2 separate regions of the Homo sapiens genome follow, and region 2 is linked to region 1. The links come from fine-mapping of genetic effects on gene expression. A gene starts in region 1. The other region holds a variant in brackets. All regions are shown on one strand. Distances are between the middles of the regions. Region 1 holds the start of ASB6 (ankyrin repeat and SOCS box containing 6). Region 2 overlaps C9orf50 (chromosome 9 open reading frame 50).

Region 1 (4,381 bases):
GGAAGTGGGGATTAATCTGGGAGCTGGGGAAAGTTTGCTAATCAATCACATGGTAGAAGCAGCAACACTCGCTCTTGGAACAGAGGTGGGAAGAGCCATGTGAAAACCCGCAGGGGGTGGGAGGCCACCCAATGGGAGTTTCCTTAGTTGCAGCCACCCAGGAAATAAAGGGGGGGAAGTCACTCCTCAGAGGATGGTAGAAGCCAAGGCTGGGGACATGGGCGCCCACCCAGCGTCGGGCCGCGTTTAAGCCACCTGCCCACCCCCGGGGCTCTCGCTGACCTTCAAAGTTGAGATTGGCCCCATGCCGCAAGAGAACGTCGGCCGCCCGCGTCAGCCCCAGCTCAGCCATCTTGAGCAGGGCGTTGCTCACGCCTTCCTGGTAAAAGGGAGAGTGGGCTTTCCTCTCCAGCAGCTCAGTGAGAACAAGGATTCGGCTCTCCTCGCTGGCGACATAACTGGGCCTGGGACAGGAGAGAGGCTGAGGGTAGGCACAGCTGTGGGACCGGGTGACCGCGCAGCCTGTGGGTTGGTGGGCTTTAGTCCTGCTATCATCATCAGCAAGCAGGGCCCTGGCTCTGTGGGTCACAGGGGCTTGGGGGAAGCTCTGAAGTAGAGAGAGGGCCACGCTGCATCTCTTAATACGGGAGCAGACTGGGATTTGCGGAGAATGGGCTGGGTCTGTCTGCGCTCTCCTCCCGCGTTGCCCAGAGTCCGGTCGCAGACTTAGGTACAAAGCCTCACACACCTGGGCTGCTGGGACTGAAGGGACCACCAGCCTGGAGGCCAAGAGCCCAAGCCCGACTTTGATGCTTCTTCCTCAGAAAGCCCTTCCATCCTCAAACCCGCAGGACCCCAGCCCCGGCAACACCTGCAGCCAGGACAGCAACACAGCCTCCTCCCTCCCCTCACATTGAGACCTTCAGCTGATATTGATGAAGAAAGCCTACGTTTCCACCAGAGTCCCTGGATGGCGAGACTCATCATTACCACGTGTTGGAAATACCAACTGACAACCCCCTCAACACCTGAGCCGAGCCCCTTCCTTCTGCTCTCCCCTCCCTTCCACCTCGCGTGCCGCCGTACAATTACTTGTCAGTCTCTCCTCTGGAGCACATGCGCCAAGAAGGCGGGGGTTTTGCTGAGCCACTGATGGACCCCAGGTGCCTAGTACCATGGGCAGTGAATGCAGATTCGCTCCCGACCCCTTTCCTGCAGGTCCACGACAGACCAGCTCTTGTCTATAAAAACGCAAACTCTGCTACAAAAGCCCACCTTCACACTGCTCTGGGGTAACATCTGAGGCCTCACGGATTCCACCCTGCTCCTCTGCCACGCCGGGGGGTGGCACAGGACAGGCAGGCGACAGGGTGGGGCTGAGGCGCAGGCCCTGCGACAACCCGCGGGCCTCCGCCCTCGGGCCCTCCCCGCCCTTCGTCTCCGCCATGCAAGGGGCAGGAGTGGGATCCGCGCGGGGCAGCGCGCACTCCGAGCCACGCAACCCCGGCTTCCGCCCGTCCCTTCCTCTGTCAAGGGGGACGCATCCACCCCGCCCGGCTTGTGGTGATAAAGTGGGACGCTGCGGGGTCGGAGCGGCCTCGGCCAGCTCACGGGAGGGGGTGAGTTACCGGTCCAGAGACTCCTGCCGCTCGGGGTCCTGGATCCCCAGGGAGCCCAGAATCGCATCCACCAGCGGCTGGTACTCGAAGATGATCCTCCGGAAGCCGTGCAGGAACGGCATCGCCGCGGGCCCCGCGCAGCAGGGCCGTCGCGCTTTCTGCCGAGGCCGAGATGCCCAGACGCCGACCGGAACGCTCCGGCGGCCGCGGACCCCACCTGCTCCGCCAGTCCAGCCCCTGCGCCCGGCCGGGTCCGCTCCTCAGTCCAAGCCGCGCCCCCGCCGGAAGTGACCCTCGTACTTCCTGCCCGCGCCGACTCAGGGTGGGCCATATGGCGACAGCGCCCCCTGCGGGCTCGGAGGACCTCGGCGCGTCCTGGGGCACGACCGCCAGGCCGACTCGGGCGATGTCCAGTGGGCGGCCCCAGCGGAGTGGGAGAGTGGAGGATCGAGCCAAGCCAGATCCGAGACTCAGGCGGGTCCGCCCCTTCCTGCCAGGGCCCGGCCCGGCTCGGCTTCGCCCTGCGATCCCGCCCGCGACCGCTGGGCGCCGTCCGAGTTCCGCCGGTCGTGCTCTCGGCCCTGCCGCTGCCCCACTGGCCCTGGGCGCCCCTGAGAGCTGTGGTCATCAGACACTGCCCCTTCCGGTTCGGGCTGGCCCTCGCCTTCCCTGAAGAGGGGCTGGGCCACCTCTGTCACCACCCGGCCCGCTGACTGGAATGATGAGGACCAGGGTACTCGCACGTCCCCTCCTCAGTTTCTTATTCTCTGTCCCGGGGAGCACCTGGCCAGGACGGCTGCTAGCCCTCTCCACCTCTGCCTTGATGGACTCAGTGAATCTTGTTTTTTGTTGTTGTTGTTTTTGTTTTTTTGGGGGACGTAGTCTCGCTCTGTTGCCCAGGCTGGAGTGCAATGGCACGATCTCGGCTCACTGCAACCTCCGCCTCCCGGGTTCAAGCGATTCTCCTGCCTCAGCCTCCCGAGTAGCTGGGATTACAGGCGCTGGCCACCACGCCCAGCTTATTCTTGTATTTTTAGTAGAGACAGGGTTTCACCATATTGGCCAGGCTGGTCTCGAACTCCTGACCTCGTGATCCTCCCACCTCGGCCTCCCAAAGTGCTGGGATTACAGGCATGAGCCACGGTGCCCAGCCCGAATCTTGTGTATTTTTTAGAGACAGGGTCTCACTCTGTCTCCCAGGCTGGAGTGTAGTGTAGTGATCATGACTCACTGCAGCTTTGAACCCCTGGGCTCAGGTGATCCTCCCGCCTCAGCCTCCCGAGAAGCTGGGAACACAGGAGTGTGCTACCGCCTGTCTCTGAACTTGGATTTCCTCATCTGTAAAATGGGTAGAATCCCCAGCACTTTGAGAGGCCGAGGCAGGTGGATCACCTGAGGTCAGAAGTTCGAAGCTGCAGACCGGCCTGGCCAATATGATGAAACCCTGTCTCTACTAAAAATACAAAAATTACCCGGGCGTGGTGGCAGGCGCCTGTAATCCCAGCTACTTGGGAGGCTGAGGCAGGAGAATTGCTTGAACCCGGGAGGCGGAGGTTGCAGTGAGTGGAGATCGCACCATCACACTCCAGCCTGGGCAATAAGAACGAAACTCTGTCTCAAAAAGAAAAAAAAAAAGTATAATCACACTCACCTGAGATGCTGGAGCCAGCGCACTGTAATTGTTGGTGGAAGTGGAATTCAGTGGGAAGGAGCCAAAACCCTCTGGTTCAGGAAGAAGGGGCGGAGTGGGCAGCCGGGTTTAAGCCCCTTTAGGGCAACACCAGCTTGGGCTTCCTAGAAGCAGCTCCAGGCCGCAGAGTCCACAGCTGCCAGCACGTTTCTGCCTTGGTTCTCGCTGTAGGAAAGAAATTTCTCCCTGGGTGAAATCGGGAAATTCTGCTCACATGGAAATGGACATTTCCAGCTTGCCTTGGAAAAACCACTTTTCTGGAGTCGAGGCACCTCCCCTTGGGCCATGCATTTGAGCCTCCTCTCCCACCTGGAGTCTGCGTGGGGGGGCCTTGATGCCTTCTTGCTTCTGGGAAGCTGATGATGAAGAGGGGTTTCCCGCCCCAGCAGTCCACATCACAGCGTTGGCCTCCTGGGCCTTGCTCTGCCAAGTTGGGCCCCTCTCCCTGGAACCTGCCAGACAGCGAGAGTTGCCCAGCCCAGGAAAAAAACATTTAAAGGCGCATTTCAAGACAATCCGATGGGTCTTAGAGTAAACATTTTTATATTTATTTATTTATTATTATTATTATTATTATTTTTCAGACGGAGTCTCACTCTGTTGCCTAAGCTGGAGTGCAGTGGCAGGATCTCGGCTCACTGCAACCTCCAACCCCTGGGTTCAAGCCTACCAGGTAGCTGGAATTACAGGCATGCGCTACCACGCCAGGCTAATTTTTGTATTTTTAGTAGAGACGGGGTTTCACCATGTTGGCCAGGCTATTCTCGAACTCCTGACCTCAGGTGATCCACCCGCCTCAGCCTCCCAAAGTACTGGGCTTACAGACGTGAGCCCACCACGCCCAGCCAGATGAAACATTTTTAAATGGGCAGAGTAAGGCCCTCTACCATGTGCAAAACAAACTGTACAAGAAAACCCAAAGCAACGAGCCTCAACCGGCAAGGTTGAGGGTGTGGCAGCAGCGGCTGGTAACTGCTGGCTCTGGTTGTTAAAGCTGTTGTCAGATCCAATGACAGGCTCTCGGAAAACCACCTCCGACGCCAGGCATTCAGAGTGCCTCAGTTTGCTTCCT
Region 2 (4,381 bases), 26 kb before region 1:
ACACAAGCCCATCCTGCTTCTGGGGCCTTGGTTTCCCCACCAAACAAACAGAAGTTGGGCAAAAATCACAGCTTCTAACTCCAGCTTCCTGTCACGCTAAGGAGGCTGCGTCAGATCCCTCCCAAATCAGCGAAGGTCCTAGGTTTGCAGGGCATCGCCCACAGCTAGACCTTGAGGCAGACATTTCCTGAAACTGCACATAGTGGGTGCTCAATAAACAGCTAGAGGACATTGACTGTTGGGGACCCTGGGGGCTGCTGGATCCTGAGAAGAGGCTGGGCACACAGAAAAAGGTGGAGCTTAGTCAAGGTTATACCAGAGTAAGAACAGGGACTTCTCGCCTGCTTCTCGAGACACACTTCAGAAAATTCACTGGGAATGGCCAGGCGCGGTGGCTCATGCCTGTAATCCCAGCACTTTGGGAGGCAGAGGCAGGTGGATCCCTGAGGTCAGGAGTTCGAGACCACCCTGGTCAACATGGAGAAACCCCGTCTCTACTAAAAATACAAAATTAGCCAGGGGCGGTGGCGCATGCCTGTAATCCCAGGTACTCAGGAGGCTGAGGCAGGAGAATGGCATGAACCCGGGAGGTGGAGCTTGCAGCGAGCCGAGATCGCGCCACTGCACTCCAGCCTGGGCGACAGAGTGAGACTCCGTATCAGAAAAAAAAAAAGAAAAAGAAAACTCACTGGGAACTGCAAAACAGACACCATTACATCCAGGGTCTGGTGGCTCTTAGCTTCCTTGCTGGACCTGGCAGTGCCAACTGTCTCCAGGAGAGAGAAAGTTTCCGCTTCGCGGCTTTTCTGGGCACCTCCTCAGGCAGGCTTCGAGGTCTGCCTTCATGGATGTCAAAGGAAGATGCTTCCAATGGCATCTGGACCTCCTCCAGCCCCTGTAGGCTGTGGGGACTGCGGAGGGGAGCAAGTGTGGGCTCTGGAGGCTCCGGCTACGGGTCTCAAGGTGGGCAGATACAGCATATGGGAACCCCTTGGCAGCGAGCAGTCCAAGGTGCTGCCTGCGTTGGAACACCTCCACTGGACTCTGGACCCTCTACTTGGTCTTCGAAGGTCAACCTGACATCCTCCAAGGAGGCCAGTTCAGGCACATCCTCTGCAGGATCACTGATCTCTTGGCCTTTGCAAAGCCAGTCCCTCACTCTAGGGGCCCGGAGCTACAGCCTCTCTGCCCTCCTGGCTAGAACTTTCGGGAGTCTCGAGGCTCCCCATCCTGTCTGCTTACCTGAGCGTCTGCGCTCCCAGTAGCGGAGCGTTGTGTCCTGCAGGGTCTCGTCAGCGAATCGCACCCGGAAAGGGCAACGCTGCCTGCAGGGCCTAGAGCCTTCCCCCGAGGGGTTGTGGGTCAGCGCAGCCTTGAGCCTGGGGACCTGTGCACCGTGGGGCCTGCTGAGAGAGGGGAGAGGGGCCTGTGCTCGAAGCCCCCCACCGTACCCCAGCACACACGCACCAGCCCCAGACTCGCTGTGAGATCCTGGACAAGTGCCCTACACTGGTCTTGAAGAATGGATAACGCCAATCACAGCAGCCGGCCTTAACGGAGCACTTCCTACCTGCCAGGCAGGCTCAAGCACGCACATACACCAACCCACCAAATGCACACAGTCCCCATGAAACGCTGTTATCATTCTCATTTTATAGTTGAGGAAACAGAGGCACAGAGACTATTCCAAGGCGATGCAGCTGTCAGGCATGGAGCCAAGACCTGCATCCTGGTTCCAGAGCTGGCGCCCTCGCACGTAAAGCAATTTAGCAGAGAGAATAAGAATGCCAGCCCAGGAGTCATGCAGTCCTGGGTTTCATTCCTGACCCTTTTGAGCCTCAGTTTTCTTGTCTGTAAAATGGGAATCATTGTGCCCACCCTACAGGGTTGTGAAGAAAGGAAATGGGCCGTACAAGCATCCAGCCCAGGGTCTGCAGGACCCAGAGGAAACATCACTAACAGGGAGCTGTTTTTTGTTTTTGTTTTGTTTTTGAGACAGATTCTCGCTCTGTGGCTCAGGCTGGAGTGCAGTGGTGCCATCTCGGCTCATTGCAAGCTCCGCCTCCCGGGTTCACGCCATTCTCCTGCCTCAGCCTCCCGAGTAGCTGGGACTACAGGCGTGTGCCACCACGCCCGGCTAATTTTTGTATTTTTAGTAGAAACGGGGTTTCACCTTATTGGCCAGGGTGGTCCCGAACGCCTGACCTCAAGTGATCCACCCCCCTTCGCCTTCCTAAGTGCTGGGATCACAGGCATGAGCCACCGCCCGCCCGCCTGCCTGAGCTGTTCTTATTGTAACTGTCTATCTCAATCATGCCCCATCCCAGCCACGTGGCCTTTGGTAGACTGTCTCCAAGTCTCCATTCTGCAGGTTTTTTTCCCTTTAAATTATAGGCACAATAATACCATCCTCCTGGGTTTGGTGAGTATCAAATGATTTACATGAGGCATGTAGGACGTGGCCTGGCACAGGGTTTGGCCTTAATCAAGGGTATCTGTTATATGTATATTTCATAGATAACATTGTTCCATTTATTGTTATTAATTTCAGCCTCAACCCGGTGTGGTGGCTCACGCCTGTAATCCCAGCACTTTGGGAGGCAGGCAGATCAAAAGGTCAAGAGATCCAGACCATCCTGGCCAACATGGTGAAACCCCCGTCTCTACCAAAAATACAAAAAAATTAGCTGGGCACGGTGGCGTGCGCCTGTAGTTCCAGTTACTCGAGAGGTTGAGAATCACTTGAACCCAGGAGGTAGAGGTTGCAGTGAGCCGAGATCGTGCCACTGCACTCCAGCCTAGGGACGGAGTGAGACTTCGTCTCAAAAAAAAA[GA/G]AAAAAAAAATCAGCCTCAAGGGCAAGGCTGCGGGAAGGCCTGCTTGACCCACCTATAACTCTGTTATGGAGGAAGGTCATGGCTGACCGTTAGTATGCACATAGTTATATGTCTGCATCCATTCATCTGACCACATCTGTATGTCTGTGTAGATGCAGAGGGAATGCTTTTCATCAGCCTCCAAAGAGCCAAGCAGTTGGGAGGTGTCAGGACAGTGCCTGGCTACATGCCTTGGGACCTAGTCATCTAACAGTTGTCTGCTCAGGAACCCCTGCTCTCTGCTGGCTGCTGGGCCAGGCAAAGGCATAACCCAGCTCTGCCCACCTGCCTGAAATCTCAGCATCTTCACTCGAGGGCCACTGGAGCCTGTTCTGAGGCACCACAGTGTCCCCTGCAGGGCCTACCAGGGAATCTCACACACAGTAAGGTGCTCAAGTATTTGCTCTTGAATGTGAAAGTCTGTAACTGTGTTTGTCTCTGCTTTTGCTCACATTTGAGAGAATGAATTCCATACTTTTATTTATTTGTATCTTGTGAGAAGTCATGTGTATATTTGGCCTGATTGGTTGAACGTTCTGAGGTTGGTAAATGTGTTTCACTGTTTTTGTTTGTTTGTTTGTTTTTTGAGACAGGGTCTTGCTCTGTCACCCAGGCTGGAGTGCAGTGGCACGATCTTGGCTCACTGCAGCCTCAACCTCCCAGGCTCAAGCAATCCTCCCACCTCAGCCTCCCGAGTAGCTGGAACCACAGGCATGCACCACCACGCCCAGCTAATTTTTGTAATTTTTGTAGAGACAGGGTTTCACCATGTTACCAAGGCTGGTCTCAAACTCCTGGGCTCAAGCGATCCTCCTGCCTCAGCCTCCCAAAGCACTGGGATTATAGGCATGAGCCACCATGCTTGGCCATGTGTTCCATTTCTAGTTCCTACCCTGATCCATCAGGAGTATCTACCTAGAGTACTGTGTGAGGAATGGTTCTGAGGCTCAGTGGGGAAATATGATCCATTAGTTTTGTCTGCTGTGGGTATGAGATGAGGAAGAATGATATGTTTGTGATGTATTTACTCTCCCTGGTCTTTAAACTCATGGGCAGTGCCATTCACCCTTCACCCCTGCTTAAGCCTGGAGGAATTTTAACCTGGAGGAACTGTTTCTGTCTTCTTTTCCTCCTCTGTTAAAACTATGGTGTCTAGGCCCAGGTAGGTTCCAATTCCTAGGCTCTTCTCTTACCTCCATCCCTTAGTTTTCTCCCAATATTCAACATATAGTAAAACCTAATAAAAGTTAGAGTAAGAAATGGACAAATGATGGTGGGATGGGTAAAATGATGGAAGACTGGGTGGGTGGGTTGATGGGTGGATGGACTGATGGGTGAGTTAATGAAAGGGTCTGAATAGAACTGAACTATGAATGTATGGGTAGATGGACAGATGCGTGGCTGGATGATTATGTAGATGGGTATGTAGGTTTGTGGATGGCTTTATGACTAGATTAGCGATGGACAGTGTCCTGGGTTTACAAGTGGATGGAAGGATTTGTAGATG

The links. PIP is the estimated chance that this variant, and not a neighbour inherited with it, causes the effect.
Region 2: its variant is the best candidate, but not a certain one, in a credible set for the expression of ASB6 in lung (TOPMed, PIP 0.74).

What each region holds. Positions count from the first base shown.
Region 1 is chr9:129,640,259-129,644,639 of GRCh38, forward strand. It overlaps ASB6 (ankyrin repeat and SOCS box containing 6), which reads right to left and starts at 1,893. Exons shown (of 6, transcript NM_017873.4): 1 at 1,629-1,893; 2 at 283-464. The coding sequence starts at 1,741. RefSeq lists enhancers at 1-396, 397-953 and a silencer at 1,660-2,259.
Region 2 is chr9:129,614,242-129,618,622 of GRCh38, forward strand. It overlaps C9orf50 (chromosome 9 open reading frame 50), which reads right to left. Exons shown (of 7, transcript NM_199350.4): 4 at 1,243-1,406. It also overlaps a transcript of NTMT1 not described here. Among named protein-coding and RNA genes, the nearest start is that of C9orf50, 4.7 kb to the right of the region's middle. The variant GA/G (reference allele first, on the strand shown) is at 2,834.